Regions from separate parts of the Homo sapiens genome. Here regions 1, 3 and 4 are each linked to region 2. Evidence: fine-mapped expression QTL. A gene starts in region 2. Each other region holds a variant in brackets. All regions are shown on one strand. Distances are between the middles of the regions.

Evidence for each region. PIP is the estimated chance that this variant, and not a neighbour inherited with it, causes the effect. A credible set is the group of variants that fine-mapping cannot tell apart.
Region 1: its variant is the best candidate, but not a certain one, in a credible set for the expression of PRORP in monocytes (Schmiedel 2018, PIP 0.63).
Region 3: its variant is the best candidate, but not a certain one, in a credible set for the expression of PRORP in whole blood (INTERVAL, PIP 0.56).
Region 4: its variant is the best candidate, but not a certain one, in a credible set for the expression of PRORP in monocytes (TOPMed, PIP 0.55).

What each region holds. Positions count from the first base shown.
Region 1 is chr14:35,360,914-35,368,994 of GRCh38, forward strand. No RefSeq gene overlaps it. Among named protein-coding and RNA genes, the nearest start is that of NFKBIA, 40 kb to the right of the region's middle. RefSeq lists enhancers at 1-74, 6,414-7,003, 7,004-7,591, 7,592-8,081 and a silencer at 6,710-6,759. The variant G/GA (reference allele first, on the strand shown) is at 3,827.
Region 2 is chr14:35,119,276-35,127,356 of GRCh38, forward strand. PRORP (protein only RNase P catalytic subunit) reads left to right here and starts at 3,277. Exons shown (of 8, transcript NM_014672.4): 1 at 3,277-3,360; 2 at 3,677-4,956; 3 at 7,460-7,507. The coding sequence starts at 3,971. PPP2R3C (protein phosphatase 2 regulatory subunit B''gamma) reads right to left here and starts at 2,715. Exons shown (of 13, transcript NM_017917.4): 1 at 2,627-2,715. The coding sequence starts at 2,684. PRORP-PSMA6 (PRORP-PSMA6 readthrough) reads left to right here and starts at 2,564. Exons shown (of 15, transcript NR_182666.1): 1 at 2,564-2,777; 2 at 3,677-4,956; 3 at 7,460-7,507. RefSeq lists enhancers at 1,919-3,118, 2,338-3,257, 2,501-2,630, 3,171-3,250, 3,258-4,177 and 1 more.
Region 3 is chr14:35,087,820-35,095,900 of GRCh38, forward strand. PPP2R3C (protein phosphatase 2 regulatory subunit B''gamma) reads right to left here. Exons shown (of 13, transcript NM_017917.4): 10 at 7,229-7,365; 11 at 3,251-3,388; 12 at 132-191. The region is part of intron 1 of LOC101927178 (a long non-coding RNA gene); the gene reads left to right. Among named protein-coding and RNA genes, the nearest start is that of PRORP-PSMA6, 30 kb to the right of the region's middle. The variant A/G (reference allele first, on the strand shown) is at 4,415.
Region 4 is chr14:35,172,427-35,180,507 of GRCh38, forward strand. The region is part of intron 4 of PRORP (protein only RNase P catalytic subunit); the gene reads left to right. The region is part of intron 4 of PRORP-PSMA6 (PRORP-PSMA6 readthrough); the gene reads left to right. Among named protein-coding and RNA genes, the nearest start is that of PRORP, 54 kb to the left of the region's middle. The variant G/A (reference allele first, on the strand shown) is at 4,630.

The sequences.
Region 1 (8,081 bases), 240 kb after region 2:
TTTTAAAAGGTCAAGCAGCACTCAGAAAATAGCTGCTTAAACAGCAAAACAGGGCCAGGCATGATGGCTCACACCTGTAATCCCAGCACTTTGCGAGGCTGAGCCAGGTGAATCACTTGAGGCCAGGAATTTAAGACCAGCCTGGGCAACATAGGGAGACCTCATCTCTATTTTAAAAAAAAAAACAAAAGGGTTTTTCAGGGAGATGCTTGGATTTTATCTGGAGAACCCAAAAGTCTAGATACCCACACACCTGGGCTAGTTTACTTCCAGCCCCGTTCCGGGAAAGGGGCTGAGCAAGAGACCTTCATGATTTGGTGGGAAGTTGAAGCGGGGCTGGGACCAGGGCTGTCATCCCAAAGTTACCACCTGAGACGGCCCTGCCTTGTAAATAGAGGGCAGGTGCAGATGGAGCTGGCAGCGTTCTAGTGGCCACATTTTAAAAATAGGTGAAACGGGCCAGGCACAGTGGCTCACGCCTATAATCCCAGCACTTTGGGAGTCTGAGATGGGTGGATCACCTGAGGTCAGGAGTTCGAGACCAGCCTGACCAACATGGTAAAACCCAGTCTCTAGTAAAATACAAAAATTAGCCAGGTGTGGTGGCAGGCGCCTGTAATCTCAGCTACTGGGGAGGCTGAGGCAGTAGAATCACCTGAACCCAGGAGGCAGAGGTTGCAGTGAGCCCAGATCATGCTACTGCACTCCAGCCTGGGTGAGAGTGAGACTCCCTCTCAAAAAATGAAAAATAAAAACAGGTGAAATGAATTCTAATCTATTTTGTTTAATAAAAAATAATTAAAAGATTATTTCAACATGTAATTGATGACAATGACTGTTACTTATTTTACAGTCCCTTTTCCTCACTGAGCCTTTGAAACCCAGTGTCTATTTTACATTTACAGTGAATCCCGTTTCAGACCATCCACATTTCGGTGCTCACTAGCATTATGTGGGCAGTGAACAGCACAGATCTAGAACTTTTATATCTCCTTTTCTTTTATTTTTTCTTTCTTTTTTTTTTCTTTTGAGATGCAGTTTTGCTCTTGTCACCCAGGCTGGAGTGCAATGGTGCAATCTCGGCTCACCGCAACCTCCGCCTCCCGGGTTCAAGCGAGTCTCCTGCCTCAGCCTCCCGAGTAGCTGGGATTACAGGCACGCGCCACCACAGCCAGCTAATTTTTTTTGTATTTTTAGTAGAGATGGGGTTTCACCATGTTGGTCAGGCTGGTCTCAAATTCCTGACCTCAGGTGATCTGCCCACCTCAGCCTCCCAAAGTTCTAGGATTACAGGCGTGAGCCACTGCGCCCGGAGTTCTTTTATTTTTTCTTTACTTTTCCCTTTTTTTCCCTTCCTTCCTTCTTCCCTCCTTCCCTTCTTTCTCCTTTTTTAGAAAATCAGATCATTCTTTAGAAATTGAGACAGATGTCTACCTGCCAACGACATTCACCCAGGCAGATGATGCTGGGAAACCTTATTTTCCAGAATTCTCTGCTTTCCTGTCGCTGCTCCCTCCTGGCACTTTTTGGGCTTCTGGCAGGCCACTGGTTAGCAGGGCACAAAGATCTCCCCTAGCACATTCAGCTTCCCACGGGCTCATCTGTCTCCATGGAATGGTGAGGGCAGGCTCACATGGGGCCTTCCTTCTTTTCCAGCAGTGGCTTCAGTATTTGCCAAGACTCCCCATGTCTTTTTCGTGCCTGGAGTTTCACTTTGCATGGGTGGCTGGTAGCCAGAAGGCCCTTCTACCTTGGAGAGTCCCTGCATCCATCTCTGGGCTTGAGGACAACTTTGAGCCCCAAAATCGGGCTCTCATAGAAGTAATTCCATTGTCACATGTCCTGCAGCAATCCTGGAACACCACTCTGGGAAATAAGCTCCTGGAAAAAAAATTGGGGAGGAATTTTGAGGAGGTGTGTAGTCCAGAAAGATTTGGAATGAAGTAATCTTTTAGGCATAAATTTACCAGAAGCCAGTATTTCTTTATTTGCATTTCCTTTCATTATCAAGCAAAGTAACACACACACACGCGCGCGCGCACACACACGCGCACACACGCACAGGCACGCACGCATGTACACATGCACGCACACGGACACATGCACACACACGCACACGCATATGGACACAACGCAGACATGCATGCACACACGTGCACGCACGCACACACACACTTGCACACACACACACGCACCCTGCTTGCAGTTATGCAATGGTTTGTGCAGTTGCTGTGAGCCCAGAAGCGCTTGTCTGAGTGTGCATATCCCTGGCTTCCTGCACTGAGGGCAACAGGAGGCAGTGGGAATTTCTCAAATGTTCACAAGAATGTCGAGAGGGCGTTCTGAGTAATCAAAACTCCTTGAACTTGTGGGAAAATGCAGTCCCAATTTCCTTTTCGAGACAATGGTCTTTGAAAGCTGTATGCCACGAGAGTTTTCGTTTGTTTATGGTTAGAGAATATGGTAAAATGCACGTCTGTGGAAGGCCCCAGGAGTGAGAAATCCTGCCACATGGATGGTGCGGCCCTAAGTGCAGGGCAAACTTGTATTCTCCAGCTGGCACTAATGCCTGCTGCATCGCTGACCCACTCAGCTTCAGTGTTTTGGCCATTAGTGTGATCAGCCTAACAAAACTCTTATGTCATTCTCGTTACCCTTTTCTCTCTTAGGAAGCCAACTCTCAGGGTCTTCCTCCGCTTCTGTTCTCTCATGCCCCTTGGTGGAGGCTCCCAGATGGACGCTCAGACACGGAAGGTCCAGGGAGATGCGTGGATCTGCCGCCATGTGGGTGGACCAAGCTGTTGCCTCCATTGGAAGCCTCTGTCCGGTGCCACATCCTCCCTGGGTTCCAGTCCCCACCTGCCAGGTTGACAATTAGGCAATTTGATTTACTAAGGAGAAGACAAAGAAAGAAAAGGAGAAATATTTCAAGAAAAAAAAGACTGTGAAAAAGAAAAAGTGAAAAAATAGGGAATATAGAAAAAAAAACCGCAATCAGGAGAGAGAAATAAAGAATTCCAGGATGATGAGTCTGGATGGAGAAAGCCTCCGTTTCCCCACTCCAGAAGTCTGAGCTGAGTGAACTCCTTAGCATTAAGGGAGGTGTCTCTATGGAGGACTGAATATGTCTTGCGAGAGGTGGGGCAGGTGGGATGGGGGGTGGGGTGGAGTGCTATCCCAGTTAAGCCTTTAGGTACTAGGTACCCAGGAGGTCTCATTAATTCTGGAATCATTTTGATATATTAGATACGCTCAAGGATGAGCTGTGTGCTGTTTCTCTTGCTGTACTATGTGGTCCAGATTCCAGACTCCAGAGCCCTTAGGCAAGCCCAGAACTGTCCCCACAATCTCTGGGTGGCAGCTGCCCCAATCATGGCTGTCCAACCTACAGGAGCAACTAAACATGGGATTCCCAGGCAGGGAGGAGATGCTGTAGGGTGGCGGAACCTGCAGCATGGATAGCCACCTACTCTGTCCTCTCTGTCAGGACAGCCTGACCGAGGCCCACAAGTGGCTGCTCACTCCTCCCGGCCTGACTGCACCAGTCTAGACTGGGCTCTTAGCATCTGTCACCTGGCCTTTGTTGTTTTAAGGAGCACAATAATAATAACAATAATTTAAAAAAAAAAAAACTCTTTTGGCTGGGTGTGGTGGCTCACACCTGTTATCCTAGCACTTTGGGAGGCCGAGGTGGGCAGATCACTTGAGGCCAGGAGTTTGAGACCATCCTGGCCAACATGGTGAAACCCTGTCTCTACTAAAAATACAAAAATTAGCTGGGTGTGGAGACAGATGCCTAAAATCCCAGCTACAGATTCTGTCTCCA[G/GA]AAAAAAAAAAAAAAAAAAAGCCAGGTATGATGGCGCACCACCATAGTCCTAGCTACTCAGAAGGCTGAGGCACAAGAGTCGTTTGAACTCTGGAGGCAGAGGTTGCAATGAGCCAAGATCGCACCACTGCACTCCAGCCTGGATGACAGAGCAAGACTCTGTCTCAAAAAATAAATGAATAAAGATTAAAAAGAAATAAAAAACTATTTTGAGCCAGGCATAGTGGCTCATGCCTGTAATCCCAGCACTTTGGGAGGCTGAGGTGGGAGGATCACTTGAAGCCAAGAGTTCGAGACCATCCTGGGCAACATAGTGAGACTCTGTCTCAATAAATAAAAAAATAAATAAATAAATGAAACTCCTTTGAGGATCTCAACCAACATGAGCTGTTTGTAATTCCAGAAATAGCCCGGACACTGAGTGGCCCTACCCCCTCAAAGGATTCCAGGACAGCTCCCACCTTCTTAGAGGGATGTGGAGGGAGAGCCGGCCCTGGGCATGTGACTTCTGTGCCCTCAGCCGCTGTTGGCTCACTCTGAGGAGGTCCAGCCTCCCTCCCATGGGTCACACAAGCATCTCTCCTCTTCCCCGAGGAGCAAGAACACAGGGAACGTCTACATCGAAAGGAGGAGCTTTAGGGTTTTGTGCCAGCTTCACTTCATTTCTTCTGCTGTTGGTTCATTCATCTAACAGAATTTATTGAAGTCCTAAGGGGTGGGGACACAGAACTGAACTCTCCTGGTCCTGGCCCTGAGGGGCCCCTGCCTGGACGGCTTGAACCCGGGAGGGCCAGGCCCACCTCCCGTGGGGCCCGTTTTCCCCTCTGGGAGGTGGGCAGCCTCACTCAGAAAAGTGCTTGTAGAGCAGTTTCACCCCTTTGTGAATGAGCTTCGGCAAGCACAGGGGTGAGTCACGGCCTTGGTGACACAGAACACATGACTTCGAATTGCCCAGAAGTATGACTGGTGCCCTGGCCTGTGCTTCCCCACCCTGAGGGGGAGGCCACTGTCAGCTCAGAACAAGGGATCCAAAGATGACCTTTCTTGTTTTCCAAAGACCTGCTGTCAGCTGAGGCCTTTCAAGGCCCTGTATATCCATGGTGAATTCCTGGAAGGCAGCTTGAAGTAACCACTGAATGGGTTTGGTTTCTTTTTTTTTTTAATTATCTAAGCAAAGCACCTTTCTCCAAAAAGAGCAAATTCACTTGTGGGTCACTTCCTGTGGGAAGATGGAAAATGTTCTTACTTGGGAGTAGATGGGGAGAGCAGGCCCAGCTCCAATAGCTTGCTGGTGCCACTGAGATTCTTGAGCCTGGAGGATCCTGGCTGACTTGCTCCAGACCTGGCGGAGGGTCTGTCTCAGTCACGGTTCTCCCCAGCGATGACCGAGAACTGGTCCCAGTTCCTGACATGCTGTGGGTCCAGTGTGACCCACAATCTGCCTGGCCCATCCCCTCGGCGGGCGCACCTCTCCTAGTGTAGGATGAAGCATAAATGGCAGAAACCAGCAGGCGCCGCTTCTGTGTCCACCGAGTCAGCTGGGATCCATGCAGCTGGTGGCTTGTCGGTGGCAGGCCAAGGCCTGAGTCATGTCCCCGTCACAGCCTTCAGTGGAGGGCTGACCCACAGAGGAAATTACACAGCACTCTGTGGCCCATGATGGAGTCAGGGGCTTTTCCAAGGGCATCAACTGGGAAGGCAGAAAGAAGTCATCACCCACGCTGGAGTCTAAGGCTTGGGGACCCCCACTTACTCCAGGGGAGAAGGCCTGGTGACCTCGGGGACAGCGAGGCCTGTGCAAACCTCTTCCACAGCCCTCCACTGGCCAGCAGGGTGCCCACAGTCCCGACCCCTCTGTGACAGCGCTGCATGCTCACCGAGCCAGCCTTGCCCCACATGGTTCCTTGGGCTGCAGCCAGAAGTCCATCCGCAGCCTTTTACCCAGATCCACACCAGCCCCAACCCTCAGTCAGAAAACACAGCACCTCCAATGGAGCCAGAGGCCACCCCTCTCAGATAGCTGTGTGACTCTGGCAACTAAATTCAACTCTGTGGGCATCAGTCTCTTCATCTGTAAAATGGGTCTTGAACACGGGGCTTCAGTCTCTTCATCTATAAAATGGGTCTTGAACACCTACCTGACCAACTTGTGGTGAAGATGAAATGAAACTATGCAAAGGCCTGGCATAGAGCCGGCACACAGTGGGTTCTCTGTACATGGTCCTCGCTCTCAGCCTGCTCTGTTGCAAAATCCAGGTTGGCACTACCCCCCAGGGCTCAGCCCTCAGCGTTATCCCTTTCCTTCCCCATACCCAGTCTCCCAACCCTTCGTGCAAGTGTGTGGTGGAGGAGACCGAAGCTCCACATCCAAATGGAGGGGTTGACTCCTCTGTAGTGAGGGGTCAGCCTAGCTTGAGTCACTGGGAGACTGTCTTCCAGCCTCCCCTTGCCCACCCCAGACCTGACATCCCAGGGCCACCCTGCAGGGAGCCTGAGGTGGAGGGGCCTGGCTACCTGTCTGCAAATGTGGAGCCGGGGGAGGTTGGTTGGCAGAAAGGAGGGAGAAGTGACGAGGCGCCCCAGGCCCTGTGCCTGGAGTCAGAAGGGCCAGCTCTGGGAGAACCTTCACCCTCGTGGAGACTTTGCCTCAGAATGTTTGCCTGGAACCCAGCCCACCAGGGCTGACACCTGAGGCTGAGGCTGCCCTGTCATGCCCCTTCCACACCAGGGGCTCTGTGCTGGGATTGCTGTGGCCAGTTACGGGGAGGCCTGCAAGTTTGGGCAGCCGAGGTCATGCCTCTCAAAGAGGAGCCGGATGAATATATCAAGTAAATGTGCATTTCAGCTTGTGGTAGGGCCAGACACAGCTGTGTGTGTGTGTGTGTGTGTGTGTGTGTGTGTGTGTGTGTGTAAGGGGAGCAACATTCACTGTGCACCTACCATGTGGCAAGCTAGTGCTAGGCCCTGTACTTGTACTATTTCATTTAATGAGTTTAATTTGCATGGCTGCTTCTGTGGCATTCCAGAGTGGCTTTTCACACTTTCTTTGGCTGGGGTGGGGGTGGGGAGAACTGTATTTCTATTTTTATCTTCCCATGGTGGGGTGCTCTGCTCATGGGGCCCCTTATCTCCCCCGGCACTTTCCCCTACATCCGGCTGCAACTAGAAGCTTTCGGTATGCAAAGGGAACTTGCAGCTTCACAACAGCCCCCTCACCCGCCTCCTCCCAGCCCTGCATGGGGGTCAGGCCACCTCTTCCCCAGGAGGACCCTTCTTCTCTTCTGGGCTGGATGGAGGCAGGATCTGTGCTTCTCCCTCAAACCTGGGAACCAACTGGGAGGGACATCTTCTCCTTTCACCCTCTTGCCCCAGCAGCTCAGGGGTTCATTTGGATGAATGGGCCCTGCCTGTAGCAGCCTGGCATGGGGGCAAACCAGGACTCCACATGGCTGAGGAGCTCCCCGGGCCCCTGCACTCCATTGGGTTGACTTATTTTAACCCATTGCACTCCCAGCTGAGCTTTAGAGGGCAAGGTTTGGGGTTAGTGGGTAGCCTTGGGGTTGGAGGTGCAGTCCCGCATAGTGACTTGACATCTAGGAAGAGCTCATTGTTCTGAATGTGATCTTTACAACCACCCTGAGGCTGGTCCCTAAAGCTATGCTCTGGAAATGAGTCCAAGTGTCCCCAGTCTGTTTTCCTCATTCCTCTGCTTACAAACAAAGGTGCACTTTTACTTGGTAGGTACAGTTGTGGGTAGTTTATTTGATTTTGCAAAAGCAAAACTCTTTGTAATATTTTATGATGTTGGGATGCGAAGTGCGTTTATTCTCATTTCTTTTTCTTTTGTTTCTCCCCTCACCCCAGAGAGGTGAATAGTCTCATTTTTAAGCAATGTGCAGATACTGGTGCCTTTCTTCAGCTGGAACTGTGTACAAAAGTGGCCCGGAGAAGGATCAATGACAGGCAGCTTAAATTTCTAAGGGGTGTCAGGGTGGAACGTGTGATTCAGAGCTTGCACCCACTCCAGGGGCTTTCCTGGACAGAGGGGCTGGGCTGCCCAGGCCTCCTGGGTGACCGCGGGGGCAGGAGAGCAAATGCCTGGGGACGCCCTCCCAGACTCTGCCAGAAAGAAGCCCGCAAACCCAGCGAGGGGCAGGGCGGCTGGGGTGAGATTTTTTAACTCTTGAGATATCGGAATACAGCTATTTTTCATACGGTTATCTCTAAATTGCAAAGACAAAAGAAAACCACTTAA
Region 2 (8,081 bases):
GATCTGCCTACCTCGGCCTCCCGAAGTGTTGGGATTACAGGTGTAAGCCACAGTGCCCAGCCCAAATGAATTTTTTTTAAGACAGGGTCTGGCTCTTGTCACCCAGGCTGCAGTATAGTGTCATGATCATAGCTCACTGCAGCCCCAAACTCCTAGACTGAAACAACCCTCCCTGCTTCAGCCTCTCGAGTAGCTAGGACTACAGTGGTGCACAACCACCCGGGCTAATTTTTTACTTTCTATTTTTGTAGAAACGGTGTTTCACTATGTTGCCCAGGCTGGTCTCAAACTCCTGGCCTCAAGCGATCTTCCCATCTCGGCCTCCCAAAGTGCTGGGGTTACATGAATGAGCCACCGAGCCTCCCAACACCACTACCCCCGACCACCCACCTTTTAAAAAGATGGGTGATATTAACAGCACGTTTGTGCTGGTGTAAATGATCCAGCAGAAGGAAAATCTGATGATGTAGGAAAGAAAGGAGGAGGCTGGAAGGAAGTCAGTGAATACAGGGAAAAGAATGCAATCTAGTGGTGGACTGGAGGGACTCTTAAATAGGAGCATGGACAGTTCATCTTTTTTTTTTTTTTTTTTTGAGACGGAGTCTCGCTCTGTCGCCCAGGCTGGAGTGCAGTGGCACAATCTCCGGCTCACTACAACCTCCGCCTCCCGGGTTCACGCCATTCTCCTGCCTCAGCCTCCTGAGTAGCTGGGACTACAGGCGCCCGCCACCGCACCCGTCTAATTTTTTGTATTTTTAGTAGAGACGGGGTTTCACTGCGGTCTCAGTCTCCTGACCTCGTGATCCGCCCGCCTCGGCCTCCCAAAGTGCTGGGATTACAGGCTTGAGCCACCGCGCCCGGCATCAGTTCATCATTTTAACAGTGAAGCCAGAGTGTATGGGCAACTAACTGTGGGGTTGTGGGGCTGAAAGAAATGTTAAGGGGGACAGGTGATGTTCTCCTCTGACTGCTTCTCCTTTTTTTTTGAGACTGAGTGTCGCTCGGTCGCCCAGGCCGGAGTGCAGTGGCACAATCTCGGGCTCACTGCAAGCTCCGCCTCTCGGGTTGAAGGTATTCTCCTGCCTCAACCTCTGGAGTAGCTGGGACTATAGGCGCCCGCCACCACTACCGGGTAATTTTTTTGTATTTTTAGTAGAGACGGGGTTTCACCGTGTTAGCCAGGATGGTCTCGATCTGCTGACCTCGTGATCCGCCCGCCTCGGCCTCCCAAAGTGCTGGGATTACAGGACTGAGCGACCGCGCCCGGCCGACTGCTTCTCCTTTCTTAATGAGATATATATTAAAATACAAGTTCATCAGCTTAAAGTAAGAAGCGGGTAGGACAGACTGCAGGTGTAGGAGATGAGAAGAATAGTGTAAAAGAGTGTTGCCTGGGTGCGGCGGCTCACGTCTGTAATAGCAACACTTTGGGAGGTGGAGGTAGGAAGACTGCCTGAGGCCAGGAATTCGAGACCAGCCCAGGCAACATAGCAAGACCTCATCTCCACTAAAAATAAAAAATTAGCCGGGTGTGGTGGCGTGTGCCTGTACTTCTAGCTGCTCAAGAGGCTGGGGTGGGAAGATCCCTTGAGCCCAGGAAATCGAGGTTGCAGCAATACTTCACTGCGCCGCTGCACTCCAGCCTGGGCAACACAGGGAGATCCTGTATCGGAAAAAAAAAAGTGTATTTAGGAAAACACAGATTGGCAGTTTGGGAGATGAAAATTGAATGTAGGAGAATGAACGTCCAGGAAAACACGGTAGACATGACCAAAACACCTTCTTTAGATTAGTGGACTTGTATTAAAAGTGAGATAACTCGGCGGGGCGCGGTGACTCACGTCTGTAATTCCAGCACTTTGGGAGGCCGAGGTGGGCGAATCACAAGGTCAGGAGTTTGAGACCAGCCTGGCCAATATGGCGAAACCCCGTCTCTACTAGAAATACAAAAATTAACCGGCCGTGGTTGCGCGCGCTTATAGTTCCAGCTACTCCAGAGGCTGAGGCAGAAGAACCGCTTGAACCCGGGAGGCAGAGGTTGCAGTGAGCGGAGATGCTGCCACTGCACTCCAGCCAGCCTGGGCGACAGAGCAAGAGACTCCGTCTCAAAAAAAAAAGTGAGACAACTCACCAAGGTTCTGTTTTTCTCCAGCCACTTTCAACAGCCCTTAGTGCGGGTGTGGAATAGGAAAGGTAGATTTAACGAGGTTAGTTAATAAGCAATGTGAAGGAGAAAAATAAAAGGAAAAATGGATTATGAAATATAAAATGGATTACGAGGGAAGCAAAAAGCGTGACAGTAAAAAGGCAGGAGGACAATTATAGGTCCTGGTGGGGTTCAGGCGTTGTTGGAGCCGGGGTTCCAAGTTATTCTTCACAAGTTTAGATTAAGACCATGGAAGTCAGTGACTAAAGCTAAGTTTTTCGTTCCTCTAGATTCTGCCCCAGGAAAGTTTGGGTCAAACCTATCGGGATCCTTAAACCACATTCCACTCCGCCTCCTTTGTCGGGAGGTTTCACAGAAGCGGAAAAGGCGGCTCCCCCTTGCTCCTCCTCCCCACCTCCCCCCTACCTCTAGGAGTTTAGGGCCGGGCCATCCCAACGGGCTGCCCCTCCCAAAACTCACTGTTTGGACAGGTGTTGGGCGTCGCTAGGCGCCGACGAAGAACTTCTTTCCAGTCCATGGCCGACTTCCGCGCAGCAGCTTCTGCATTTGCTGTTTCCTACCTGCTCCACCCCTACCAGCTCAGGCGTCAGCACCGCCAGGCCCCGTAAAGGTTAGGAAGGCCGTCCAACCACCATCTTGATCGAGGGCGGAAGTCTTGGCTAAAGAGGCAAAAACAATTACTGTCACTGCCGCGGAGAATACCGCTACCACGCTGACTGGGGGAAAAAACTATGAAAGAGATGGAAAATGGTTCTCCTTCAGAGGCGACCCAAGCTCACCAAGCCGGATTTTAAAGGCCACGATAAGCCCGCGTTTTCCTTTATCGTGTGCCTTTGGCGCGTGCGCACCACGTGACCCAGGAGTTCATTAGTTCCGGCTTGAGGGAAGCGCCTTCTTTCACAATTTCTTTTCATTGTTCATTGCGGATATCTGGAAGCCTTCCAGGTCCCCTGAATGTAGTAGACACTTCAGCAGCCGTCTCCTACCCCTTTTGCCACTAAATGCTTCAAAACTGCCTTTTTTCCTCGCCGCCGGGCCAGGCGGAACGCCTAAGTCCGGGTCAGTCTCGTCCGTCGGTCGGGGCTGGCGCGGTGCATCGTGGGCACTGTAGTTTCCGCCGCGTTTATGGCCGCGTTAAGTCTGAGTGCCGCTTTGAGTTGTTGAATGAAGTGAACTTCATTTGTCAGCGTTCGGTACGCAGTCTAGGCAGCGCCCTTCCTGTACCTCTCTTCCTTTCCTGAGTCGTTGGCGCAGCTGACTCGCCACCTCCTCCCTCCTCGTCCCCCCACCGGAGGAGTTTTGCGGTCTGTAGAGAGCTATGCAGGGTGAGGGCCCCTAGACTTCGGCTTTCGCCGCTGTTGGTGGTAGGCTGGAGTTGGGGGTCCCTGGATACGGTTTTGGCTTTACACCCCCTTTCCAGCAAGCTTCCCGTGGGAATCTGTTCCTTTTCAGGACAGCTGTGATCCACGTGAGTAAAACTGGGCGTTCCGTCTTGTGCTTTTTCCTCAGGTTCATGAACTGGAATGTAAGAGGCACCAGAGGATTCCTGCTCTGTCCCCTGGTTTGCGGCTTGCGACGTTGGACATCCCCGGATTGTTGTTTAATAGAGAAAACTCACCTGCCTTCTTGCTTTTAAGTAGCCCCAAAAGCAGAACCTTGATTTGTCTGTAAGGAAGAAACACAAACCTTTTAAAAAGTTCCACTTCGACTCTGCACCGCCGACCCCCAATCTCTTTAATTTTGCCATAGAAGAGGGGTTTTTTCAACATCTCTCTCACTATCTGGTGCTGATCTCACTGCATAATGACTTTCTATTTGTTTGGTATTCGAAGCTTTCCGAAGCTTTGGAAGAGCCCATACCTTGGGCTAGGCCCAGGGCACTCTTATGTCTCGCTGTTTCTGGCAGACCGCTGTGGCATCAGGAACCAGCAGAGGTTGTTTTCTCTTAAAACAATGTCTCCACAGAATACCAAAGCAACGAATCTGATTGCCAAGGCCAGATATCTCAGGAAAGATGAGGGCAGTAATAAGCAAGTTTATTCTGTTCCTCATTTTTTTTTAGCTGGAGCAGCTAAGGAGAGATCACAGATGAATTCTCAAACTGAAGATCATGCCTTGGCACCTGTGAGGAACACTATTCAACTCCCAACACAACCTTTGAATTCAGAGGAGTGGGATAAACTTAAGGAAGATTTAAAAGAAAACACCGGAAAGACCAGTTTCGAAAGTTGGATCATTTCACAGATGGCTGGCTGTCATAGCTCTATAGATGTGGCTAAATCTCTGCTGGCATGGGTAGCAGCCAAAAATAATGGTATTGTAAGTTACGATTTACTGGTCAAGTATTTGTATCTCTGTGTCTTTCATATGCAGACATCTGAAGTTATTGATGTCTTTGAAATTATGAAAGCCAGATATAAGACTTTAGAACCTAGAGGTTACAGTCTTCTCATCCGGGGATTGATCCATTCAGACAGATGGAGAGAAGCATTGTTGCTGTTAGAGGACATCAAAAAAGTTATAACTCCTTCAAAAAAGAACTATAATGACTGTATCCAGGGAGCTCTCCTTCATCAAGATGTAAACACAGCTTGGAATTTATATCAGGAATTGCTAGGTCATGATATTGTTCCTATGTTGGAAACTTTAAAAGCTTTCTTTGATTTTGGAAAAGACATAAAGGATGATAACTATTCAAATAAACTACTAGATATTCTTTCATATCTAAGAAATAATCAGCTGTATCCAGGGGAGTCATTTGCACACAGTATAAAAACATGGTTTGAGAGGTAATTTTGGTTTTTTTATATGTATGTTTTTATTCTTTAATTTTTTTTTTTTTTGAGACAGGGTCTTGCTCTGTTGCCCAGACTGGAGTGCAGTGGTGTGTTCATAGCTCACTGTAACCTCAAACTCCTGGCCTCAAGTGATCCTCTCGCTTCAGTCTCCTCAGTAGCTAAAACCACAGGCATGTGCCACCATACCTGGCTAATTATTTTTAATTTAATAACTTTAAACCTCAAAGTAGCCATTCTTTTTTGTTGTTAGTTGCTGAGAATCACTCTTCTGATTATACTTTTTTCCATCTCTTAGTAAGATTTATTTTCTCTTTACGACAAAATTTTCTCTCTTTAAAAAAAGTAACAACATACATAATTTGTGCTAATCTTTACCCATCACATAAAACTGAAATTATATAGCAGTTTTAATTTTTACATTTTTTTCCTTTTGGAAGGATCATTAATTTTGTTTTCTTAGGCATCTAGTATGATGTGAGTACTTAATACTACTTATGGCCACTGTTCATAGCAAGAAAAGAATATAGCATTTGACTAGAACTGTCTCTGGCCATATTAGTATTTTCAGAAGTTCCTCTGAAATCTAGCGACTGAGATAATATGCTTATATTTATTCTGTCTACTCTCTCCCTTTTTTTTTTTTTTGAGACGGAGTTTTGCTCTTGTTGCCAGGCTAGAGTGCAATGGCATGATCTCGGCTCATTGTAACCTTTGCCTCCCGGGTTTTCTCCTGCCTCACACTCCCGAGTAGCTGGGATTACAGGCATGCGCCACCATGCCCTGCTAATTTTCTATTTTCTTTTTAGTAGAGACGGGGTTTCTCTATGTTGGTCAGGCTGCTCTCGAACTACCTCAGGTGATCCGCCTGCCTCGGCCTCCCAAAGTGCTGGGATTACAGGCGTGAACCACCGCGTCCGGCCTATTCTGTCTACTATCTATAGTTCATCAACTTGGATGATTAGAGTGGACAGGGGGATATTGATCAAGCCTTATACGTAAGCATTACAATGGAAAATCTTAACCCTTCCAGTTTGTTTTGGACCTTTCTATCATTTGGCTGCTGTCTCTCTAAAGCTCTCTCCTTTGGTTTGCTTTTGCTTTATTCATGTTACTGGGTACATACCTGTTTATTGCTTTAGTCTTTTTTAAAATTTTTGAAAATTTTTACTTATTTTTTAAAATTAATATTCTTTTTTTAAGAGGTGGGGTCTTGCTGTGTTGACCAGGCTGGACTCAAACTCTTGGCCTCAAGCGATCAGGTGTGAGCCACCATGCTTAGTCATTATTTCTTCATTAATTTGCTTCCTAAAAATTTGTTCCTTCCCTCTGTTTTTCTCTTGCCTTTTTTTCCCCTATATCATGTTTACGGAGCTTTGAAGCAGTAATTATGCTTAATTATCTTAAACTTACTGAAGATCAAGGGAGGAGGAGCCCATTTGTGAAAATCTTTGAATACCAAGGAGTTTGGATTTTATTCTGTTATCAAGAATGCTGGATTTGGCTGGGTGCTGTGGCTCACGCCTGTAATCTGAGCACTTTTAGAGACTGAGGTGGGAGGATAGCTTGAGGCCAGGAGTTGGAGACCAGCCTGGGCATGGTGAAACCCTGTCTCTACAAATAATACAAAAATTAGCTTGGCATGGCGGTGTGTGCCGGTAGTCCTAGCTACTTGGGAGGCTGAAGCAAGAGGATCACTTGAATCTAGGGAGTCAATCAAGGCTGCAGGGAGCTGTGATGGCGCCATGCACTCCAACCTGGGCGACAGAGCAAGACCTTGTCTCAAAAGAAAAAAATAATGCTGGAATGGAGTTTTACAAAGGCAGTTGCCAAGTGAGAAGAGTAGATAGGAGAGGGATTAAGATTGAAAACAGGGAGATCTGCGTGAATACAATTTTAGGTTTAGGTGAGAGATGATGAGAATTAAGAACTGAGGAAGGAGAGAAGGCAGTAGAATCATAAGAACTGATGGTAATATGTGGAAGGGGAAGGAGGAAAGGATACATTGATTGAACAAATACATCAATACATAGTTTTTGAATGCTTCCAAATAGGCTAGGCATTGCGAGTGTTTTATAAAATCTATTATGACATTCTCAATTTAATTGGGAATACAGTACCACACAGTGAAATAACAGTGGTGTGTAAGAGGTAAATTACTCTCGGCAGGAGCAATTTCTGGCAGCTTTATGGAGAAGGTAAGAGTTGAGTTTGGTTTAGAGGTTATGCTACTAAGGTCAGCCGCTTTTGGTAGACTTGAAGATGAGAGTTATTTGTTGGGAGGAGAACCACAGGGAAGAAGGAGATCCAGAGCAGAGTACCAGCAGCTTCTTAACCCCATCCAGGATAGCAGCCACTTTTTAAATTAAACCATTCTACAGAAGTATCTTGAACTTTTCGGACTTCTTGCTTATAAGAGTTTCCAAATACCATGAATATCTTTCATTTCAGTAGGAATCTAACCTTCTCATGATTTGGTTTTGCAATCTTTTCATAGTGTTCCTGGAAAACAATGGAAAGGACAATTCACCACAGTCCGAAAAAGGTGAAGACCAATGTTTATTTTTAACTTGTTTGATTTTGGTTTAGTAGGTTTTGTTGCTATTAATTGAAAAATATTTAAGAACACCTTAAGGGTAGGATAATTACAAGTTTGTAATTAGAGTATCTGAGGAAAAAAACATACTTTGCATACAGAGACTTAGCAGTGCCCAAAATGTTTTTCCTGTGAGTACTGTGAACCTATATGAAGTCTTAGAGATGTTTTTTCCCTAGAGGTTCCAGACCCAGTTGTGTTTTAGGATTTATTTATTTATTTAATTCACCAATATGATATTCCAGAGGATAGGAATTACTTTAAAAATGTCATCTGAGCTGGGCGCGGTGGCTCACGCCTGTAATCCCAGCACTTTGGGAGGCCGAGGCAGGCAGATCACGAGGTCAGGAGATTCGAGACCATCCTGGCCAACATGTTGAAACCAAGTCTCCACTAAAAATACAAGACCCTGTCTCAAAAAAAAAAAAGTCATCCAAACGGCCAATCTACTTTTTTGGGTTTTCTGGCACACTAATTTGTGATATTATCAGGTTTACAAAAAATTAGATGTATGTGATTATCA
Region 3 (8,081 bases), 31 kb before region 2:
TCAGTTCAGAACAAAAAGCAAACACTTGATTCAAATAGTACTTCATTAGTTGCTTTCATATAAAATTTCATGTAATACAAATGACTATCTCATAATTATCTGGTAATACGTAAATTAAAGGAAAAGATAACCTTGACATCTTGAAATGAAACAGGATCTTGTCCATGGATTTTCATTAGTTCCTGTATGGCCTGTATTTAATAGAAATAAATCTGTAAATAAAAAATGAAATACACAACATCCCTCTTTTGCCCTACAACCCCTTTCTACTTATACTTCCTTTCCTATCAGGCCACAAACCTCATCATTCTCTCTCTTGCCAATCTTCTTAGCTTTCTTGACCTTATTCCACATCAGTGAGCAAAACCTAAATTCTCGATTAGTGTATTGACCTTTTTAGACCTATATCTTAACTATTGAGAACTTCAGGAAAAAAAATAAAAAGATTACGGATTGCTGCTTCTACATAGGAATGTTCTCCAACCTCAAACAGGCCCTCAGCATGGCCTCACAATTATTCTGTTTGATCTGCTCCTCTCATTTTCCATGAATGTTATTCCTGCCTTCACTATTCTCTTAAGATCCCCAATCTACTGTCTCCCTTCCTACCCTACACTTTGCTTTCTACGTAATACAAGAAATGGAGGTAGACCTCCCAAAACTCTTCCTTTTCATAAACTTTAACAAAAAAATGAAGAAACTGCTGTCATCCAGTAGGAATACAAAATACTTCAGGTGAGCATTATTCACTGGAAATGTGAAGTTTCAAATTCTTGGTGAACAGTCAACTTTGTTCCCGATGCCTACTCTGTTACCACTAATAATCAGAGTATCCATAAAGGAATCCCTTTGAAGTAGATAAGAATCTGAGTACATGCTCTGTTAATATAGTAATAGATGGTATGATCTAGAGTGAATCATCCAGACCCAGCTTTATCATTAGGATAGTGATGTCCAAACGCTCTGTGAACAGCCCAGGATTATAGGGCTCAGCATTGGACACTTTTTACCTTATCCCATATAACCAAGCCTAAATAAGCTTTGACAAAATGCCTATATGAAATATTTTTAAAGTAGTTTTAAAACAATTTAATATTCTAAGAGTAGAAAATACTGTAAAGAAATCTTTATGAAAAAGAGCAGTGTTTAATTTCAAATACATTTATTTTCTTAAGACTGGATTTTTACCTAATAGGTTTGTCTAAAGTAGGGGCATTCCTATGATGGGTTGGTATTTATTTTCTCAGATGAGCCGCTGATATAAGCCCATATAGCATTCAGTTTTTTTAATTTTTATTTTTAGAGATAGGGTCTTACTCTGTCATTCAGGCCGTAGTGCAGTGGCAAATCATGGATCACTGCAGCCTTGACCTCCCGGACTCTAGTGATCTTCCCACCTTAGCCTCTCAAGTAGCTGGGACTGCAGGCATGTGCCACCACACCCAGCTAATTTTTAATTTTTTTGTAGAGATGGAGTCTCCCTATGTTGCCCAGGCTGGTTTCCCAACTCCTGGGCTCAAGCAACCCTCCTTCCCTGGCCTCCCAACGTGCTGGGATTAGAAGCATGAGCGACCACGCCTGGCCTAAAAATTATTTTCATGGTTTATTTCAACATAGCAAATAAAAGTATCTACAACTGGCTGGGCACAGCCTCCCCAGTAACCGGGACCACAGGCATGTGACCACTACACCCAGCTAATTTTTTAAATTTTTTGTAGAAGTTGGGGTTTCCCTGTGTTGCCCAGGCTGGTCTCAAACTCCTGTGCTCAAGTGAACCTCCTGCCTCAGCTTCCCTAAGTGCTAGGATTACAGGTGTGAGCCACCATGCCTGGGGTATGATTTTTTAATTTTTTTTTTTCTTTTTGAGACTCAGTCTCGCTCTGTTACCCAGGCTGCAGTGCAGTGGCGCAATCTCGGCTCACTGCAAGCTCTGCCTCCTGGGTTCATGCCATTCTCCTGCCTCAGCCTCCCGAGTAGCTGGGACTATAGGCGCCCGCCACCACGCCCGGCTGATTTTTTTGCATTTTTAGTAGAGATGGGTTTCACCATGTTAGTGAGGATGGTTTTGATCTCCTGACCTTGCGATCCGCCCACCCTGGCCTCCCAAAGTGCTGGGATTACAGGCATGAGCCACCGCAACCCGGCCGATTTTTAAATTTAATAAAAGCATTTACATAACAGATTTCAGAAAGAAATCAAGTTTTTAGTTTTCTTTCCTACTTAAAAAAATTGAGTGAAAGCTGATTTGACTAGATGTAAAATAAAAATATGTAAATATACGTCAGGGGCTGTACTACCATTGGAAATACAAATATGTGATAAATTCTATACTTGTGATGAAAAACTTGTAAGATGCTAAGCAGTTCAGAAAAGGTAGCTCCTTTCCACAGAAATTTTTATAGACTTTGGTAGTTGTAGTTTTTTTTTTTTTTTTTTTTTTGAGACCGAGTGTTGCTTTGCTGCCCAAGCTAGAATGCAGTGACGCGATTTCAGCTCACTGCAACCTCCGCCTCCTGGGTTCAAGTGATTCTCCTGCCTCAGCCTCCCAAGTAGCTGGGATTACAGGCATGTGGACCCAGTTATTGGGGAGGCTGAGTGGGAAGACTGCCTGAGCCCAGGAGTTGGAGGTTGCGGCGAGCTATGATCATGCCACTGCAGCCTGGGCGACAGAGCCAGACCCTTTCTCAAAAAAAGAAAAAAATAAATAAAAATCACGAGTTAGGTAAAATGGTTACTAAATATTTAATTTAAACCAAATGATATATCTTTAATTTGCTCTTCTTTTTCTAATTTCCTAAAGTAGATGCTGATTTTAGATCTTTAACATTTTCCAGTATATGCATTCAATACTATAAATTTCCCTCTAGCCACTGCTTTTGCTGCATCTCACAATTTTTTTTTTTTTTTTTTTTTTGAGACGGAGTCTCGCTCTGTCGCCCAGGCTGGAGTGCAGTGGCACGATCTCGGCTCACTGCAAACTCTGCCTCCCGGGTTCACGCCATTCTCCTGCCTCAGCCTCCCAAATAGCTGGTACTACAGGCACCCACCACCACACCTGGCTAATTTTTTGTATTTTTAGTAGAGACGGGGTTTCACCATGTTAGCCAGGATGGTCTCTATCTCCTGACCTTGTGATCCACCTGCCTCGGCCTCCCAAAGTGCTGGGATTACAGGCGTGAGCCACTGCACCGGCAGCAACAAAATGATATATCTTAAGGAACAATGACTCACTTATGCAAATGAGACTTACCCTAAAGAAATAATTAAGTGAAAAGACATTCAGGTATCCTTTGTTCTCAATATCAAGCAGTTTGAAAATATATTGTAGAGCTGCAGGTTCCTTTCTGTTTTCTAATGCAAGGACAAAGTCCAAGTAGGTCTTATAGTCCTACAGAACAGAAAATAATGTTCATTAGAGGCCTTAGTTGAAATTAACTTTCAAGTGAATATCTTATGATTTGAAGCTATTTTGCAATCAAAGGTGGCAAATTTAATTTTTTCCCTAAGTTATGATATGAGAAATCCATTTATATACTTAATATTGGTTTCTAGGGAATTTTTTTCGAGACAGAGTTTCACTCTCATTGCCCAGGCTGGAGTTGCAATGGCACAATCTTGGCTCACCACAACCTCCACCTCCCGGGTTCAAGCAATTCTCCTGCCTCAGCCTCCGGAGTAGCTGGGATTACAGGCATGTGCCACCATGCCTGGCTAATTCTGTATTTTTAGTAGAGATGGGGTTTCTCCATGTTGGTCAAGCTGGTCTCGAACTCCCGACCTCAGGTGATCCGCCCGCCTCAGCCTCCCAAAGTGCTGGGATTATAGGTGTGAGCCACCCTGCCCAGCCATAGGAATTCTATATATAATCTACACAGGACAGTTTTGAGGACATAGTTCTTTTTTATTTATTTATTTTTTTGAGACGGAGTCTTGCTCTATTGCCCAGGCTGGAGTGCAGTGGTGCAATCTCAGCTCACTGAAACCTCTGCCTCCCAGGTTCAAGCGATTCTCCTGTCTCAGCCTCCCAAGTAGCTGGGAATACAGGTGCACACCACTATGCCCAGCTAATTTTTATATTTTTAGTAGAGACAGGATTTTCCATGTTACCCAAGCTGGTCTCAAACTCCTGACCTCAAGTGACCCGCCTGCCCCGGCCTCCCAAAGTGCTGGGATTATAGGCATGCACCACTGTGCCCAGCCCTAGTTCATTTTTTTATGAGAGATTTGCTGTGTTAAACTATAATTTTCTTTCATTATTCTTGTTTTTGAGACAGGGTCTCACTTTATCAACCAGGCTGGAGTGCAGTGGTACGATCATAGTTCACTGCAACCTTGATCTCCCAGGCTCAAGCAATCTTCCCACTACAGCCTCCGAGGCAGCTGAGACTACAGGTACACGCCATCACACTTGGCT[A/G]ATTTTTTAAATTCTTTGTAGAGATGGGGTTTTCCTGTATTACCCATGCTAGTCTCAAACTCCTGGGCTCAAGCAATCATCTGGCCTCGGCCTCCCAAAGTGCTGGGACTAGAGGGATGAACTACTGCATCCTGCTTCAAACTTTTGAAACAGATGACTAAGCTATAAACTTATAACTTCATTTCAGTGCAGTTATTTTGAAAAACAAATTTTTTATCTGGAATGAACAGAACAGTATAATTTTTTTTTTGAGATGGAGTTTCGCTCTTGTTGCCCAGGCTGGAGTGCAATGGCGCGATCCTGGCTCACCACAACCTCTGCCTCCCAGGTTCAAGTCATTCTCCTGCCTCAGCCTCCTGAGTATCTGGGATTACAGGCATGCACCACCACGCCTGGCTAATTTTGTATTTTTAGTAGAGAAGCGGTTTCTCCAAGTTGGTCAGGCTGGTCTCAAAACTCCCAACCTCAGGTGATCCACCCACCTCGGCCTCCCAAAATGCTAGGATTACAGGTGTGAGCCACCGTGCCCAGTCTCAGAACAGTATATTTAAATTGCTATTTTAAAATATTGTTTAAAATTTTTAATTCAGATTTCCAATAAGAAGCTGTCTTGAGATTGCCAGACATTTTACAGTGAGCTGACACTGCTCTCATCCATAAAAAGGCAAAATGGAAAGGCCAGAAAGACATGAAGAGAACAGAAAGCCTTCCCTATAAAAACAGGATACGCACTTCGGGGGGCCGAGGCGGGCAGATCAGAAGGTCAAGAGATCGAGACCATACTGGCTAACACGGTGAAACTCCGTCTCTACTAAAAATACAAAAAAAAATTAGCCGGGCATGGTGGCGGGCGCCTGTAGTCCCAGCTACTCGGGAGGCTGAGGCAGGAGAATGGCGTCAACCCGGGAGGCGGAGCTTGCAGTGAGCCGAGATCGCGCCACTGCACTCCAGCCTGGGCGACAGAGGGAGACTCCATCTAAAACAAAAACAAAAACAACAAAACAAAACAAAAAAACAGGATACTCAGATTTTTTTTTTAATGGTAAAAAGTAGTAATTGGGAGGTTCTCACTTAGATAAAAATTTTATATTCTTAGAAAAGTTCCTTTCTGCATAAATAGCACTAAAGAGTTAAAGAATGCAGATTGTGATCTGACTTCATCCATAGTTGTAGCCTGATTTTCTCTATTCATCAGGAATCATTATATTAATAATATAAGCTCCTCACTGTCTATTGTTTACAGCTGTGGGAGTTACAAAGTAAATTTTCTGTGCCTTTTCCCCTCTTTTCTTTTGTTGTTACTAATGGTGTTATTTAGCAAACTGCTATTGAAGCTAAATGATAAATGTAAGACCCCCCCATTCTCATGACAATATGACTATTTTTTAAGCATAACTGGTTTGGGAAATTTATCAGATTCTTTTTTTTTTTGAGATGGAGTCTCGCTCAGTTGCCCAGGCTGGAGTGCAGTGGCGCCATCTCGGCTTACTGCAAGCTCCGCCTCCCGGGTTCACACCATTACACCATTCTGCCTCAGCCTCTGGAGTAGCTGGGACTACAGGTGCCCGTCACCGCACCCAGCTAATTTTTTGTATTTTTAGTAGAGACGGGGTTTCACCGTGTTAGCCAGGATGGTCTCCATCTCCTGACCTTGTGATCCACCCGCCTCGGCCTCCCAAAGTTATCAGATTCTTAACCCATGTTTTTAGCAGCAAAAATGGTGATTTTAAAATGCTGTTTAGAATTTTCCTTCTCAAGTATTTTGCATTGTTATAATAAAAAGACAAGTGCATGTTATCTTCAGCTGTTCATATAGCCACTTCTAGAGACTAATACAACCTGATTCTCAGAATTAAATCATGGCATATGTGTTACTACATTTGACCTGGTAATTTAATGACGGAACTATCTAGCTGAAAATAGCCAGAATAATTTACTAATGTTTCAGCTTTTAAGAGACATGGTCTCACTCTACTGCCCAGACTGGAGTGCAGTGGCCTCATCATAGCTCACTGCAGCCTCAAATTCCTCAGGTCAAGCAATCCTCCTGCCTCAGCCTCCCGAGTAGCTATACTACAGGCACATTCCATCCATGCCCAAGTAATTTTTTTATTTTTTGTAGAGACAGTCTCGCTGTATTGCTCAGGCTAGTTTTGAACGACTGGCCTTAAGTGGTTCTGTGGCCTTGGCCTCCCAAAGCGCTGGGATTATAACCATAAGCTACCAAGCCTGGCCTCAGCTTTTTTTTAAAAAAAAAAAAAAACTAGAATGCACTACTGTACAGTAGGTGCACTGACAATGAAATGAACAATAAGCTTTTCTATTTGCCCTGAGGCCATAATGCAGATGTTTTAATTTACGTTAAGACCAAAGACTCTGAATCTCAAGTAATTTGATCAGTTTACACATTTTAAAGACACTGTTACACAGTGATATCAATAATGCTGGGCCGAGTGTGGTGGCTCACGCCTCGTAATCCCAGCACTTTGGGAGGCAGATCACCTGAGGTCAGGAGTTCAAGACCAGCCTGGCCAACCTGGTGAAACCCCATCTCTCCTAAAAGTACAAAAATTAGCTGGATGCAGTGGCATGCACCCATAATCCCAGCTACTCCGGAGGCTGAGGCAGGAGAATCACTTGAACCTAGGAAGTGGAGGTTGCATTGAGCGGAGATCACACCACTGCACTCTAGCCTAGGCGACAGAGCAAGACTCTGTCTCAAAAAAAAAAGGGCTGTATTACATCAAGAAAAGGGTTTGTGGAAACTCTGGGAGCCTAAACTTTTAAAACTTAGCAGCAGATTTAAACTACTACCATTTCTCCATCATAAGTGAGACACTCCTGGAAAACACGGTCTAAGAAGACATTGGTCATGGTAGCTGTTCCATAGCGTGAGAGTTCTTCTTTACTGAGCATGCCATTGTGATCTTTATCAAGATTCAAGTACTGGCCTTGGGAAGAAAAATAATAAAGACACTTATGACCACAATAAAATTTTAATCAGAAGAATAGACTAACAAAAAGTTTTTTCTTGGTTAATATTTTGATTTTCAAACTATTCATGTTATGATTAGGGTAGTGGCCTATGTGTAATACTATCAGCTACCTTTGCAATCTTGATCAGAAAAACCCTTGGGCTAGAAACAGCCAAAAAAACCCATCATGAAGGCCATAGTCTCTGGGCTGTTTCACTTACATCATTATTTGTTTTCAGTTTGCAGTCTTTTTAAACATTCCTAGGTTTCTAAATTAAATGGAGGTAGAGGCCAACAAAAAGCACTGAAATGCTAGCACTTGAAAGTAGAGATAAGAATGCCAAAAGGAGGTCGGGCGTGGTGGCTCACGCCGGTAATCCCAGCACTTTGGGAGGCTGAGGAGGGCAGATCAGAGGTCAGGAGTTCCAGACCAGCCTGGCCAACATAGTGAAACACCGTCTCTACTAAAAAAAAAAACAAAAAAAAAAAACATTAGCCGGGTGTGGTGGCGAGCGCCTGTAATCCCAGGTACTTGGGAGGCTGAGGCAAGGAGAATCACTTGAACCTGGGAGGTGGAGGTTGCAGTGAGCCGAGATCATGCCACTGGACTCCAGCCCAGGTAACAGTGCAAGACTCTATCTCCAAAAAAAAAAAAAAAAAAAAAAGCCAAAGGAGTCAAAAGACCACCCAAC
Region 4 (8,081 bases), 53 kb after region 2:
TCCTTCCTTCCTTCCTTCCTTCCTTCCTTCTTTCTTTCTTTCCCCTCTTTCCTTTCTTTCCCTTCCTCTCTCCCTCTCTCCCTCTCTCCCTCTCTCCCTCTCTCTCCTGTCCTCTCCTCTCCTCTTTCTTTCTTTCTTTCTTTTCTGAGAGTCTCGTTCTGTCACCAGGCTGGAGTGCAGTTGCATGATCTCAGCTCACTGCAACCTTCGCCTCCCGGGTTCAAGCGATTCTTCTGCCTCAGCCTCCTGAGTAGCTGAGACTACAGGTATGCACTACCATGCCCAGCTAATTTTTATTTTTAAGCTAATTTTTTTATTTTTAGTAGAGACAAGCTGTCACCATGTTGGCCAGGATGGTCTTGATCTCTTGACCTCGTGATCCACCTGCCTTGGCGTCCCAAAGTGCTGGGATTACAGGTGTGAGCCACTGCGCCCAGCCAGTTTCATTTTTTTTTTTTGGAGATAGAGTTTCTCTCTGTTGCCCAGGCTGGAGTGCAGTGGCGTGATCTTGGCTCACTGCAACCTTCACTTCCCAAGATCAAGCAATTCTCTTGCCTTAGCCTCCTGAGTAGCTGGGATTATAGGCATGCACCACCATGCCTGGATAATTTTTATATTTTTAGTAGAGATGAGGTTTCACCATGTTGGCCGGGCTGGTCTTGAACTCCTGACATCAAGTGATCCACCCACCTGAGCCTCCCAAATTGCTGGGATTACAGGCTTGAGCCACTGTGCCCAGCCCAGATTAGTTTATTTTGAATCCCTTTTTTCTTGACTGTGGATCACATTTCTGTATTTCTTTTCATGTTTATTAATTTTCAATTGTGTATCAGACATTGTGAATGACACATTGCAGAGGCTTTAGAGATTATCTATGTTTGTCTAGAAATTATTGATTTTTTGCTAATTTAGCAGGCTGTTAAACTTCTTTAGACTTAGACTCCAAACTGTCTCCCTTGCAGTGGGTAGCAGCTGAGATCTCTGCTTAGGTCTTTCAAGTCTTTCACCTGTTGCTTTTTTGCTGGGCTTCTTGGAATCTTCTCCAAGCATGTGCAGATCATGTTTTACCCAAGGATTTGAGGAGATTTATGTGCAAATTTTGTGGTTTTATCCTTTCTAGGATTCCCTGTCATTTTCCAGCCTCTGGTTGCCCCAAACTCTGTCTTCTGTTTCCTCAAACCAGTAAGTTCTGCAGCTTTCTGCTTGATTTCCAGCTGTTCCTGCTGGCCATACTGTCTGGAGATTGCCCTCTGACCAAGACAAATTTTACCTGGTATAATTCCCTTCTTTTCTTTCCTTTATTTTCCCAAATATAGTGGCTTTAAAAAAACGCAATCATTTATTACTATTATTATTGTTGTTCTCTCTCGTGGTTCTAGGGGTTGATGAGACTCAATTGATGCTTCTTGCTTGGGTCTCCTATTGTAATCAAATAGGGGCTGGGGGTCATCTTGAAATCCCCCTCAGTCTCATCGGTGTGGTGATTGATGCTAGCTGGCTGTTGGCTGGGACTCCGTTGGACTGTCAGATGGAACACTTACATATAACGTCTACTTGGGCATTCTCAGGATGGCTGGTTTCCAAGAGCAAGCATCCTGAGAGTGACAGCCAGATGAAAGCTGTATTATCTTTTATTTCCTAGCCTCAGAAATCACATAATGTCACTTCTGCCACATCCCACTCATTGAGGCAGTCACAAAGGAGAGCCCATATTCAAAGCATAGGGTATTAGACATCACCTTTTGAGAGGGGAGTGTCAACTAATTTTCAGACAGATTTTAAAACTACCAAACCTTCAAATGTCATGTCCCCTCCAGTTTCTGCCTGCTTTTGCTCATTCTTTGGTACTTTGAAATAGTTGGGTATTTATCTAGAATTTATATTATTATCTAGTAGTCCAGTACAAACTATTCCATCATTACCAGAGGTAGAACTCCCTCCCCTATTTTTTTCTCCATAGCATTCTCACATTTAATATTATTTACTTATTGACTTCGTTTATTTTCTGCATCCTCCCACTAAGCTCCATTAAGTTGGGGTTTTTTTGTTCTGTTTTGTTTTGTTTGTCCCTTTGGTAAACTGCTAGGCATGTAGTAGGTGCTCAGCAAATATTTGTTGAATTAATGATTGGCTGAATCTTTACCTCTCCAAAACAGCCATAGGTAAATAAAAGCCTCTTAATGACAAAAGAGGACCTATACGTTTTACAGCCTTGTTCTTTCAGCACGGTTGTACTGGTAGAGTGGCATACCTAAGGTTCACTCCTCCTTGGCCTACAGAACAGGACTTAGAGATTTTGACAGTTCATTCTTCTTTTTTTTTTCTTTTTTTTTTTTTTATTATACTTTAAGTTCTAGGGTACATGTGCACAATGTGCAGGTTTGTATACATGTGCCATGTTGGTGTGCTGCACCCGTTAACTCGTCATTTACGTTACGTATATCTCCTAGTGCTATCCCTCCCCCCTCCCCCCACCCCACGACAAGCCCTGATGTGTGATGTTCCCCTTCCTATGTCCAAGTGTTCTCATTGTTCAATTCGCACTTATGAATAAGAACACGCGGTGTTTGGTTTTCTGTCCTTGCAATAGTTTGCTCAGAATGATGGTTTCCAGCTTCATCCATGTCCTTACAAAGGACATGAACTCATCCTTTTTTATGGCTGCATAGGATTCCATGGTGTATATGTGCCACATTTTCTTAACCCAGTCTATCATTGATGGACATTTGGGTTGGTTCCAAGTCTTTGCTATTGTGAACAGTGCCGCAATAAACATACATGTGCATGTGTCTTTATAGCAGCATGATTTATAATCCTTTGGGTATATAACCAGTAATGGGATGGCTGGGTCAAATGGTATTTCTAGTTCTAGATCCCTGAGGAATCGCCACACTGTCTTCCACAATGGTTGAACTAGTTTACAGTCCCACCAACAGTGTAAAAGTGTTCTTACTTCTCCACATCCTCTCCAGCACCTGTTGTTTCCTGACTTTTTAATGATCGCCATTCTAACTGGTGTGAGATGGTATCTCATTGTGGTTTTGATTTGCATTTCTCTGATGGCCAGTGATGATGAGCATTTTTTCATGTGTCTGTTGGCTGAATAAATGTCTTCTTTTGAGAAGTGTCTGTTCATGTCCTTTGCCCACTTTTTGATGGGGTTGTTTTTTTTCTTGTAAATTTGTTAGAGTTCTTTGTAGATTCTGGATATTAGCCCTTTGTCAGATGAGTAGATAGCAAAAATTTTCTCCCATTCTGTAGGTTGCCTGTTCACTCTGATGGTAGGTTCTTTTGCTGTGCAGAAGCTCTTGAGTTTAATTAGATCCCATTTGTCAATTTTGGCTTTTGTTGCCATTGCTTTTAGTGTTTTAGACATGAAGTCCTTGCCCATGCCTATGTCCTGAATGGTATTGCCTAGGTTTTCTTCTAGAGTTTTTATGGTTTTAGGTCTAACATTTAAGTCTTTAATCCAACTTGAATTAATTTTTGTATAAGGTGTAAGGAAGGGATCCAGTTTCAGCTTTCTACATATGGCTAGCCAGTTTTCCCAGCACCATTTATTAAATAGGGAATCCTTTCCCCATTGCTTGTTTTTGTCAGGTTTGTCAAAGATCAGATAGTTGTAGATAAGCGGCATTATTTCTGAGGGCTCTGTTCTGTTCCATTGGTCTATATCTCTGTTTTGGTACCAGTACCATGCTGTTTTGGTTACTATAACCTTGTAGTATAGTTTGCAGTCATGTAGCTTGATGCCTCCAGCTTTGTTCTTTTGGCTTAGGATTGTCTTGGCAATGCAGGCTCTTTTTTGGTTCCATATGAACTTTAAAGTAGTTTTTTCCAATTCTGTGAAGAAAGTCATTGGTAGCTTGATGGGGATGGCATTGAATCTATAAATTACCTTGGGCAGTATGGCCATTTTCACAATACTGATTCTTCCTATCCATGAGCATGGAATGTTCTTCCATTTGTTTGTGTCCTTTTTTATTTCGTTGAGCAGTGGTTTGTAGTTCTCCTGGAAGAGGTCCTTCACATCCCTTGTAAGTTGGATTCCTAGGTATTTTATTCTCTTAGTAGCAATTTTGAATGGGAGTTCACTCATGATTTGGCTCTCTGTTTGTCTGTTATTGGTGTGTAAGAATGCTTGTGATTTTTGTACATTGATTTTGTATCCTGAGACTTTGCTGAAGCTGCTTATCAGCTTAAGGAGATTTTGGGCTGAGACAATGGGGTTTTCTAAATATACGATCATGTCATCTGCAAACAGGGACAATTTGACTTCTTCTTTTCCTAATTGAATACCCTTTATTTCTTTCTCCTGCCTGATTGTCCTGGCCAGAACTTCCAACACTATGTTGAATAGAAGTGGTGAGAGAGGGCATCCCTGTCTTGTGCCGGTTTTCAAAGGGAATGCTTCCAGTTTTTGCCCATTCAGTATGACATTGGCTGTGGGTTTGTCATAAATAGCTCTTATTATTTTGAGATACGTCCCATCAATACCTAATTTATTGAGAGTTTTTAGCGTGAAGGGCTGTTGAATTTTGTCAAAGGCCTTTTCTGCATCTATTGAGATAATAGTGTGGTTTTTGTCTTTGGTTCTGTTTATATGCTGGATTACATTTATTGATTTGC[G/A]TATGTTGAACCAGCCTTGCATCCCAGGGATGAAGCCCACTTGATCGTGGTGGATAAGCTTTTTGATGTGCTGCTGGATTCAGTTTGCCAGTATTTTATTGAGGATTTTTCCATCGATGTTCATCTGGGATATTGGTCTAAAATTTCTCTTTTTTTGTTGTGTCTCTGCCAGACTTTGGTATCAGGATGATGTTGGCCTCATAAAATGAGTTAGGGAGGATTCCCTCTTTTTCTATTGATTGGAATAGTTTCAGAAGGAATGGTACCAGCTCCTCCTTGTACCTCTGGTAGAATTTGGCTGTGAATCCGTCTGGTCCTGGACTTTTTTTGGTTTGTAGGCTATTAATTATTGCCTCAATTTCAGATCCTGTTATTGGTCTATTCAGAGATTCAACTTCTTCCTGGTTTAGTCTTGGGAGGGTGTATGTGTCCAGGAATTTATCCATTTCTTCTAGATTTTCTAGTTTATTTGCGTAGAGGTGTTTATAGTATTCTCTGATGGTAGTTTGTATTTCTGTGGGATCGGTGGTGATATCCCCTTTATCATTTTTTATTGTGTCTATTTGAGTCTTCTCTCTTTTCTTCTTTATTAGTCTTTCTAGCAGTCTATCAATTTTGTTGATCTTTTCAAAAAACCAGCTCCTAGATTCATTGATTTTTTTGAAGGGTTTTTTGTGTCTCTGTCTCTTTCAGTTCTGCTCTGATCTTAGTTATTTCTTGCCTTCTGCTAGCTTTTGAATGTGTTTGCTCTTGCTTCTCTAGTTCTTTTAATTGTGATGTTAGGGTGTCGATTTTAGATCTTTCCTGCTTTCTCTTGTGGGCATTTAGTGCTATAAATTTCCCTCCACACACTGCTTTAAATGTGTCCCAGAGATTCTGGTATGTTTTGTCTTTGTTCTCATTGGTTTCAAAGAACATCTTTATTTCTGCCTTCATTTCATTATGTACCCAGTATTCATTCAGGAGCAGGTTGTTCAATTTCCATGTAGTTGAGCGGTTGAGTGAGTTTCTTAATCCTGAGTTCTAGTTTGATTGCACTGTGGTCTGAGAGACAGTTTGTTATAATTTCTGTTCTTTTACATTTGCTGAGGAGTGCTTTACTTCCAACTATGTGGTCAATTTTGGAATAAATGCGATGTGGTGCTGAGAAGAATGTAAATTCTGTTGATTTGGGGTGGAGAGTTCTGTAGATGTCTATTAGGTCCGCTTGATGCCGAGCTGAGTTCAATTCCTGGATATCCTTGTTAACTTCTGTCTCGTTGATCTGTGTAATGTTGACAGTGGAGTGTTAAAGTCTCCCATTATTATTGTGTGGGTGTCTAAGTCTCTTTGTAAGTCTCTGAGGACTTGCTTTATGAATCTGGGTGCTCCTGTATTGGGTGCATATATATTTAGGATAGTTAGCTCTTCTTGTTGAATTGATCCCTTTACCATTATGTAATGGCCTTCTTTGTCTCTTTTGATCTTTGTTGGTTTAATGTCTGTTTTATCAGAGACTAGGATTGCAACCTCTGCCTTTTTTTGTTTTCCATTTGCTTGGTAGATCTTCCTCCATCCTTTTATTTTGAGCCTATGTGTGTCTCTGCATGTGAGATGGGTCTCCTGAATACAGCAACACTGATGGATCTTGACTCTTTATCCAGTTTGCCAGACTGTGTCTTTTAATTGGAGCATTTAGCCCATTTACATTTAAGGTTAATATTATGTGTGAATTTGATCATGTCATTGTGATGTTAGCTGGTTATTTTGCTCATTAGTTGATGCAGTTTCTTCCTAGCATCGATGGTCTTTACGTTTTGGCATGTTTTTGCAGTGGCTGGTACCGGTTGTATCTTTCCACGTTTAGTGCTTCCTTCAGAAGCTCTTTTAGGTCAGGCCTGGTGGTGACAAAATCTCTCAGGATTTGCTTGTCTGTAAAGCATTTTATTTCTCCTCCACTTATGAAGCTTAGTTTGGCTGGATAGGAAATTCTGGGTTGAGAATTCTTTTCTTTAAGAATGTTGAATATTGGCCCCCACTCTCTTCTGGCTTGTAGAGTTTCTGCCTAGAGATCCGCTGTTAGTCTGATGGGCTTCCCTTTCTGGGGAACCTGACCTTTCTCTCTAGCTGCCCTTAACATTTTTTCCTTCATTTCAACTTTAGTGAATCTGACAATTATGTATCTTGGAGTTGCTCTTCTTGAGGAGTATCTTTGTGGCATTCTCTGTATTTCCTGAATTTGAATGGTGGCCTGCCTGCTAGGTTGGGGAAGTTCTCCTGGATAATATCCTGCAGTGTTTTCCAACTTGGTTCCATTCTCCCTGTCACTTTCAGGTACACCAATCAGACATAGATTTGGTCTTTTCATATAGTCCCATATTTCTTGGAGGCTTTGTTCATTTCTTTTTCCTCTTTTTTCTCTAAACTTCTCATCTTGCTTCATTTCATTCATTTCATCTTCCATCACTGATACCCTTTCTTCCAGTTGATCGAGTCGGTTACTGAAGCTTGTGCATTCGTCACGTAGTTCTCGTGCCATGGTTGTCAGCTCCATCAGGTCATTTAAGGACTTCTCTACACTGGTTATTCTAGTTAGCCATTCATCTAATCTTTTTTAAAGGTTTTTAGCTTCTTTGCAATGGGTTCGAACTTCCTTCTTCAGCTTAGAGAAGTTTGATCGTCTGAAGCCTTCTTCTCTCAACTCATCAAAGTCATCGCAAAGCTTTGTTCTGTTGCTGGCGAGGAGCTGCGTTCCTTTGGAGGGGGAGAGGTGCTCTGATTTTTAGAATTTTCAGCTTCTCTGCTCTGTTTTTTCCCCATCTTTATGGTTTTATCTACCTTTGGTCTTTGATGATGTTGACAGACAGATGGGGTTTTGGTGTGGAAGTCCTTTCTGTTTGTTAATTTTCCTTCTGACAGTCAGGACCCTCAGCTGCAGGTCTGCTGGAGTTTGCTGGAGGTCCACTCCAGACCCTGTTTGCCTGGGTATCAGCAGCGGAGGCTGCAGAACAGCGAATATTGCTGAACAGCAAATATTGCTGCCTGATCGTTCCTCTAGAAGCTTCGTCTCAGGGGTACCCGGCCGTGTGAGGTGTCAGTCTGCCCCTACTTGGGCTACTCGGGGGTCAGGGACCCACTTGAGGAGGCAGTCTGTCCATTCTCAGATCTCAAACTCCGTGCTGGGAGAACCACTGCTCTCTTCAAAGCTCAGTTGAAAGTGCAGAAATCACCCATCTTCCGCATCGCTCACGCTGGGAGCCGTGGACTGGAGCTGTTCCTATTCGGCCATCTTGGAACCGCCAGTTCATTCTTATCATAACTATCATGTGGGTTAATTTAGAAGTCTAGATAGGCCAGCTGCAGATCAAATGAAATTACATATGAAAGTGCTTTGTGCAGTATAAAGCACTATGAGATTATAGAGTGTATTGGATAATTGTATGCAGTTGCATCCATTAGACTGGCTTTTTCAG